2 separate regions of the Homo sapiens genome follow, and region 2 is linked to region 1. Evidence: fine-mapped expression QTL. A gene starts in region 1. The other region holds a variant in brackets. All regions are shown on one strand. Distances are from middle to middle.

Region 1 (4,384 bases):
GTCTCAAAAAATAATAATAATAAATTAAGAAAATTGGTGAACTGGGTGAAAGAGTATACAGGAGTATGTTGTACTATTCTTGCAACTTTTCTGTAAATTCAACATTTTTTCCCAAAAAAAACTTTTTTTAAAGTACCAATGTCTGAGCCCTTCCTCTATAGACTCAGAAGGAGGCTTACGGTGTGGGTTTAACAGGACCCCCGAGAGTTCTTGGCCCAGCTGGGGTTCCAAGACAATCTCTCAGACCTCCAGCTCCCAAGCTGTGATTCTGCAATCCTGAGAAAGGTTTTGGCTTGTTTGGCCTCTGGGACAGTCCCACAGGAAAACCAAAAGTCACTAGGGGAGAGGGTGAGGAGGCAGGCAAGACGGCTTGCTTCATATTCTGTCATCCAATATCTCCAGGTCCCATCTCCACACTACCTGGGCCTCAGTCACATGCCCTGGGAGCATCATGCAGCAGGTGTGCCTATTGTGAGCAGTAACAACTCTTAGTGCCAAGAACCACAGAGTCCAGGGGCCTGGGTCCCAGTCCCGCCTCTGCCTCCAACTCCTTGTATCATCCTGGGCAAATCACTTGAGCTCTCTAGACCTCAATTTTCTCATCTCAAAAATGGGCACAATATCACCATTTCTGAGTCTTCATAGAAGCACTGTGGGTACCTCAGGAGAAAAGGGATGTGCATGTTCTTCGGAAACACACAAATCACTGAACCAAGGTACATTTGTCTGCCAGACCTTCCCCATCATGACCCGCTGCCTTGGCTCAGGATCGAGGTGGACAATGCCAGCGAAACAGACCAGGAAATCCCAGCACAAGTGTTGCTCCCATCCATCTGGAGGCAAGGGCAAGGTTCAGGGCATGCCTATGGGCAACAGGTCAAATTCCACATTCCCAGAGCTTGGTGACCTGGTGACCACCCTCCTCATTGTCCACCCCAAATTGAGCTTCTTCACTCAGAGTGTAAAAAAAGGAGAAGCGGAAGGGAGCCTACCCCTAGGACCCCACCCACACACAACTGTGTTTTGATCACATCTTGCCCTTAAGCCTCCTCCAAGCCTGAAAGAATGGAACAAACAGGGCTCCATGCTCTTAGCCTTGAACAACTCTTTCAACTCCTGAGCATTGTTTCCCCAGCTGTAAAATGACAAAAGGCAATGCAGGCCACCCCACTAAGAGGAGCTATGAGGACAATCCATTTTTTGATGATGAGGTAAGGCTACTGTGCAATCAATCGTATTAATCATGGTGGTAGGACAGGCTTCAACACGGGCAAGGTGGACTTGGCAAACCGGACTCATGAGTAGACTGGAGACTCCCCCCGCACAGGCACGGTGAAGACCTGAAGGCCGCCTCCAGCCACCCACGTCTCGGCATCCCAGGCTCAGACCGGGAGAGCTCCAGAGCTCTATCAACCACCACCCTAGTACAAGTGGGCTACAGCAGCCCTGGCCCAGCCCACCCTCTATTAGAGGTCCCGCTTCTTCCCCAAGAGCTCCCTTCCTCCTTCCTGCTTGGCCCACCTTGTCGATGAAGGAGGCGAACTTGTTGTTGAGGGTCTTGATCTGCTCCCGCTCCTGAGTGCGCACTCGCTGGATCTCGGGGTCAATCTCCACATGGAGGGGGGTCAGCAGGCTCTGGTTGACAGTGACCTCCTGGATCCCCCCAGGAGGACAAGCAGGCCCAAACGTCTGCCTGCCAGCCCCCTGTCCCATAAATGCCCTGCTGCCAAAGCCAAAGCCCCCCAGAGCCCGCCCCAACAAGGCCCCTCCGGCCACACTGACAGAGATACTCTTGTGGCCCCCCAAGTTATAGAGGCTTCGGCTGCCAAAGCCACCTGTGCCGGGGCCACAGTGGGCCCCGCCACCACTGCCACTGCTCCGAGACACCGTCACTGAGCTGAAGCTGGTGCGGGCCTGGGACCCACTCCCTCCGCTGGCAGAGTTGGAGCTGAAGCCCCCTTTTGTGGAGTATGTTTGCCGAGAGACGGAGGACCTCATAGCTGCAGAGGGGCCGGAGGGCAGGATGAGAGGGCAGGAAGGGAGTGCCGTGAGCTGCTGGGCCACTGTGGGCTTTTTATCTTTTCCCAACTGGGCCGGCTCCCCAGCTCCACAGACACTCCTGCCCCATCGCCCCAAGGGGAGAGGGAGGGGTCCTTAGGGCCACGGGGAGTGCCCTCTCCCCAAGCAGGAGGGAGGGGCCCTCCCGGTTATCACCTGTGCTCCAGAGCTGGGGCTGAGCCGAGACTGTCTGGGGCAGGATGCCACCTTCTCCCCCTGCCCCCAGGCTCTCCTCGGTTGGCACAGGATGATACGGGCTCCCATGGCCACCCCCACCACCCAGTGGCTGGCTTGCTGTCCTCCCACCCAGCCCCAGAGGCCACTGTCAATAGGGCTCTGTTCTACGGGGTTTGTCCCAGGCCCCTGTTGTAAGCCAAGGCTGCAGGGCCTGGGGCTGTACAGGTGGTAGGAGAAGGAGCATTGGGCAATGGGCTGCCAGAGAGAGCATCCAGGCCTGCTCCCATCCCACCCCCAGCCAACGGCCCACCACTCCTCCCAGGTCCAGGGTGTGTGACACAGGTGACAGGGCGAGAGTGGGGATAGCCTGTGCCTCTGCCGTACAGTGGCAGAGCCTTCTGGGAAGTGAGCCTATGCTGGCAAAGTGAATTCAAGGACAGAAAGAGGATCCCTGCCCAATCGTGGGGCCCAGGCCCTTGATCAGGAGGTAGAAAAGGCCTGGGGTCCTCAGGCAGGGCCCAGAAGCCTGGGAGCAAAGGACATTCTTATGGAGGCTGAAGAGAGGGCAGGGGATTTAACCAATACCTGAGATCCCTGAGCCTCTACCCCACAGCAGAGTCCCCACAGAAAGGTTCAGCCACTTTGGAGGGAGCTGGAGGTGGGTCAAGGACACAGACCACCCTGGGTGGAGACAGGCACAGCTCCAAAAAGCAGGTGTTCCAAAAAAGCCCCAGGAGGCCCACGCAGCAGCCCCGTCACTCCCATCTTCCCCTGCCCCACATGCAGGAGCCCATGTTTCTGATTCAGAGGGGCCAGGGGAGCTCCTTAAATCACCTCATATGGTCCCCGCCGCCCACTTCCTATTCACCTCAGTCTGCTGGGACCAAACACAGCCCCAAGCAAAGACAGAGACGTCAACTGTCAGGGCCGAGGGGTGACTGAGGAGGTGACTTTAGACACTGGCCCTCCCCACCCCCTTCTCTCAGCAAGAAGATGGGCTCAAAGTGAACAGAGACTTGCCTGAAAAAAAGGAGCGAGGACAGCATCGCTGTGCTCCCCACCCCCATCAGATGAGCAGGACAACCAGCCAGGCTGTGTCCCCAGGATCCCAACAGAGAGGACATGGGACTGCCACGGAGAAGGCTTGGCCTCCCTCCCATGTTCCCCACAGCCCAGCAAGTGAAGAGACAGCCTGCTCCAGGACCAGAGGGAGCTGTGGGATCTTCTCCTAGGGCCCCTGGGAGGCTGTAAGTGGCTCCCCGTTGCTTGAAGAGGTTGAACCCAGCTCCCACAAGGAATGGGAGTGAGAGCACTTGCAGAACTAGTCCCTTAATAGCCAAGAGGAGATTTTGGAGTTAGGACACTGGGCATTTCAGGGAGCCAAGCCGAGACGTCTCCCACACTGAGCTGTGTGTCCTGGGGCAACTCGCAACTTCTCTGAGCCCCATTTTCTCTGCCTATAAGCAGGGCCCTCCGTGGAAGACCTTTCGAAAAGTGATCCCTGGATGAAGCCGCCCCTTCCCACTGACCTTCGTCTCCTTTCCCCAGGCTGAGATCACTTTCTCAGCCTCCCTTATCTCTCCCTGGGTGGCGTGGGAGGAGGAAACAGTCATGAGTGGGCCCTAGCCTCCAGGATGTGGCTGTGGGCCCCCTGGGCAAGGAAGTGTTGTCAGCCCTCTGAGTCACAGGGCAGCCAGGCTGGTGGGAGTGAGAGGCAGTCGATAAACACAAGTCTCACCTCACCCCAGACACGACACTCACGCCAGTCCCTTGCACACATTTACCAAGCACGCTCTCTGGGCCACGCTTTGTGCTGGGAGCTGGTGACAGGCACACAGGGACCAGGGCACACTCTCATGGAGCTCCCGGCTTGCTGCTTGGAGACAGCCTCCCTCCCACCCAGGTTCACAGCCCAGGCCCAGACAGAAGCCTGGGAGGGCACTTTGCCTCCACCAGCCCCTACTCTCCACTCTACCTTCAGACAGGACATGCACGCTCAGACCTTCTTTCTGCAGCCCAGGGAGGAGCAGTTTCCTCCCCTCCTGCCCTCCACAGAGAGGAAGAGCTGCTGCACACTGCTATACTGATTACTGAGGGGCTCCATCTCTGGAGACTGTCACCTGCCCAGAGTCCCTCCCTGATGGCAGGA
Region 2 (4,384 bases), 36 kb before region 1:
CACCTTGAAAATAAGCTGAAATGGTAAAAGTGCTAAGGTGGCAGGCTTACCTGGTGAGGGGGTGGTGCCTGGTGTTGCCCCATGTTTGGGCATGGCCTCCTCCTAGCTCTGTCTGACAGGACCCAGGAGGCACGCTCACCTGCATCAGGTGCTCAGCAGCCATCCCTCTGCCTATTAGCTGCACCTGGGCCCTGCAGAGCGGTGCCCAGCTCTGGAGAGGATAGAGTGGAGGAGGTGTGGGGAGGTTCTGCTTCTCTGAGTAGTGGAGACAGTGGAGCCCACTCACAGCTCTGGGAAAGTATCTTAATGGAAGGAGTGATGCAGGTCTCTCCACAATGACTGAGTGCACAGTATGTGCCCAGCTCTACGCTGGCCTTTGGGATGAAGCGCTGACCTCTCCTTCTCCCTTCTTGGAAAAAAGCCCAGAACTATCACAAATCTGCCTCCTGGGTTCTCCCTGTACCCCAAGCTTTAGTTCAGGAGGTAGTGACCTTTTGGTTTATGACTATCTTTGGAGAAAAAGTCAAGTTAACACCTATGTATGTTGAGCAGACACTGGCAAAATCCAACATGCCTAATGTTTGTTTCTCTTTAAAACTTCCCAGAGAAATTATACACTATTACACATCTTGGGGTTTATCTATGGCTTCCTTTCTTGCTCCCCACATTTTGGCCTTTCTCTGGTTTTAGCTTAAGGCCTAGGGAACAAGAAATTCAAATGTCAAGTCAACAACAAATTCAGCAAATATTTACAGACTGCCAAATGTGTGCCAGGCCCTTTGCAAAACTCTGGAGACCCAGTCATGGACAAGACACACAGGGCCCCTGTGGGACCATTTTCTGTTTGAGAGATGTGCTCCTGAGAGTCGCCCATGCCCCCTCACAAACCCCAGAAAGCCAGATCTGGCAGAGCCGGCAGCACTATGGAATATGTCTGACTCCGAAAGCCTGAAACTCTCCCTGTCTGGGGTTGTTCAGAGGCTTATGACTGGGCTTGGTTTGTCCAAAAGAAAGCCATCCTGCACACTCTGGAGCTGGCCAAGTTAGCTGCTTATCTCTCCAGGACAGGCCTTTTTTGTTCTGTCTGCTGCACATTGGGCCCTTCTAAGGGTGTGGTCTGTATGGCCCTGGCAGGAGCCTCCTTAGAATTGGGGGAAAGGATAGAGACTTCTTCAACACCCACTGGGTAGGGCTGGGAGTGGCCCAAGTGCAAAGGAAGTACAATTTTCTTCAGTGGCCTGGTTCTTCCATTTTATCCTTATCTCTCCCATGTGTTACCTGCCAGGCTGTGCAACATCCTAGCTCCTCCCCAGGATAAAACCATAAGCTCTCCAGGAGTTTCCAGTCTTGTTAATATACTGGGTGCCTTGAACCAAAGCACAGTGCTTTGCCAATAGTAAGTGCCATAAAGTTTGGTTTGTTGAAAAAATGAATTAGTCCATCAATTAATTATTAATGACTAATGGTTAAGCCCTTATACTGGATTACAACCAGATAAAACTGGTTGAAAGCTAGTTCAACTCCCATTGCATGAGGTAGCACAAGCTAATTGAGATTATTTCAATGTGAGGAATCCAGACTTCTCAAATTTGGTGTTCAGATTTAGAAAAATTTACATGCAAAATGAGTGTCACCTCCTCAGGGGAAAAAAATGTAGAATCACAGAATCAAGAACTAATCAATCAAGAATCAATCAATTACAGAATCAAGTTGAAGTTGACTGGACATTTGAGGTCACACAATCTGCCCCGTTCATTGCTGGGATCCCCTCTCCAGCATCTCTGACTTATATCCCTAATTTTCTGCAAGTTCTGCCCATGGACTGTGAAGTTAGCCCAGGCCTAGAGTGTGGCCACACAGGCTCCTCTCCTCTTTGCTCCCTCAAAGGCAATGAAC[C/A]AAACCCAGGGCTAGACCAGATCCTCCCCATGACTAAGCATGACCAAAGCTATTTAAATTCTCTGCATTTCAGCATCATTAACCATAAAAGATGATCAATCATCTCTGACCCTCTAGATCTCACAGGAACATAGCTAGATGAATGAAATATCTGCCAGTGTTTTAAGAAACATATCACAAGGCCAAATGTGGTGGCTCACGCCTGTAACCCCAATACTTTGCAAGGCTGAGGTGGGCAGATTGCTTGAGCCCAGGAGTTTCAGACCAGCCTTGGAAACATGGCAAAACACCATCTCTATGAAAAAAATACAAAGATTAGCCGGGTGTGGTGTCATGTGCCTGTAGACCCAGGTGCTTGGGAGGCTAAGGTCGGAGGATCACTTGATCCTGGGAGGTCAAGGCTGCACTGAGCTATGATTGCACCATGGCACTCCAGCCTGGACAACAGAACAAGACCCTTCTCAACAAAAGAAAAAGAAAAAAGGAAACATATCACAAAAATTAGACCATATTTTTCCTTATAATATCTAAGAGAGCAGGATGGAGGACCTGCCTTTATGCCAGACAGAAATGAGGCTGCTGCTTGGTCTGGTGTGGGGTCTAGAGTCCAGGGCAATGAGTCTCTAGGAATTCCTAAACCCATAGTGATTCAGGGTACTTAGTGCCCCAATGGGGGGAGATCTTAGTCATTGCCAGAGCCCACTGATTCTGAGCCATGCTTGTCATTCCTTTAGAGGGAATTATCTTGGAGAAGAATCTTTGAGAAGCAACATCACAACCACTGCTGTCATCAGCTAGTCCTGGGTCGGGGACCTCCCCAGCAGATGGTGGAAGAAAAAGGAAGAAGGGCATAATCTATACTTACTCTTGGGGTTGGGATAGCAGAGAAGACATGGCTTGACCTTTGAGAGGACAGGGAGCAAAACAAAGATTGGGGAATACATTCGTGGGACTAGATTGTCAATTCTGATCAGAGCTGTGAGTGAAGGAAGTGGTGGAAGGGGAGGAGATAATCAGTGAGTTGAAATTCTTATTGGTTGGGCCCATCCCTCTAAACTTGTAGGGCCTAATAAACACTTTGAGAAAACAGAGTTGGTTTACAGTCATCCCCAACACTTGAATTATCTGAAGTTTATTAACTAAGCGCCCTAAGTGTTTACTCCCTGGAGAAAAGAGTGAGTCACTGGATTGCAATGTGTAAAATCGAGACTCATAGGGTGCTACGGCCAGGAGGCTCTCCAGTCCACTCCTCTACCTCGAGGCAGAATTCACCTGGCCACTCCTACTCTTCAGGATCCCCATGGAAGGCGATTCATCAAATCTCCTAACTTGCCCAGGCCAGCAAGACCCCACCCTGACCCAAGGAAGGTCTTCAAGGATCTAGCTTTCGTGCCTTCCACTCCATTTCATGGGAGCCTAACTCCTCTTAAAGGATCAGTGAAGTTGTGGTCAGCAGCAGGAGGCCCAGTCACCTGTCCGTCATGGCATGGCACCCATACCTCTCTGCTTGTGAAGGCCCCTTTTAACACACAAAAAATTACATTGACCTTCACACATGTCAGAACTCATACTTCCAGTATCCTTTGAGAATATACATTTTTTACTATGAATTTAGCAACACTTTTAAATAAAAGTGCAGTTCATAGTCATATACATTTGAAAGTGGTAATACATATACATAAAAAGACACATTATTCACTCAGTCGAGAGACACTTGCATCCATGTGCATTCTCAGAATCCTTGCAGTCCTGACACAACAGCAACCCTAACTGGGGCCTCTCAGCCTCAGGTCTCAAGGTCCTGCCCCTTCCACGGCTGGACACCTGCCCCCAGCTGAGATTCCCCACTGAGCACTGTTACCACCTGTCTTCCCTGCCTTTGTGTCCATCAGCCTGTGGCCCTGGCAGGCCTTCAGCAGATGGGAACTGAGTTGCGATGAATTTGCTCTTGCCTGGCCTTCCATAGTAAAACACACACACTCCCCTGGTTTCTGTATCACAACCCTTCCAATATTAGAAAATACTGTGGAATTCACAGACACCAACCTCCCAGTTAGATAGACCCAGTTGTTTCTCCCAGTCCTCAGTACAGATGGTTTCCGGGAATCTTCTCTGCACCCACTTTAATATGTTAATGGACCTCTTAAAACTACAGTGCCTTGCTAAGATAGGATACTTAAGGTGGCTTCATGTGCACCAGAACTAATAAGAAGCCCCTTCCTGTCTGTGATGGGGGCACTGTGCTTCTTTCAATGCAAGCTAAGATTCTGTTCCCTTCTTTAGCTCTTGACTTCCATCAATCCTGCCTGGGGAGGAGGAATGGTAAGGCATGGGTTTGTTGGTGGTGGGGGCAGGGGGTTGTTTTTGTTTTTTTGTTTTTGTTTTGAGAGAGAGAGAGAGAGCCCCTCACTCTGTTGCTGAGGCTGGAGTGCAGTGGTGCAATCTCAGCTCACTGCAACCTCAACCTCCCAGGCTCAAGCCATCCTCC

Evidence for each region. PIP is the estimated chance that this variant, and not a neighbour inherited with it, causes the effect.
Region 2: its variant is the best candidate, but not a certain one, in a credible set for the expression of KRT79 in whole blood (TOPMed, PIP 0.87).

The regions. Positions count from the first base shown.
Region 1 is chr12:52,832,263-52,836,646 of GRCh38, forward strand. KRT79 (keratin 79) reads right to left here and starts at 2,049. Exons shown (of 9, transcript NM_175834.3): 1 at 1,522-2,049. The coding sequence starts at 1,998.
Region 2 is chr12:52,796,257-52,800,640 of GRCh38, forward strand. No RefSeq gene overlaps it. Among named protein-coding and RNA genes, the nearest start is that of KRT3, 2.3 kb to the left of the region's middle. The variant C/A (reference allele first, on the strand shown) is at 1,897.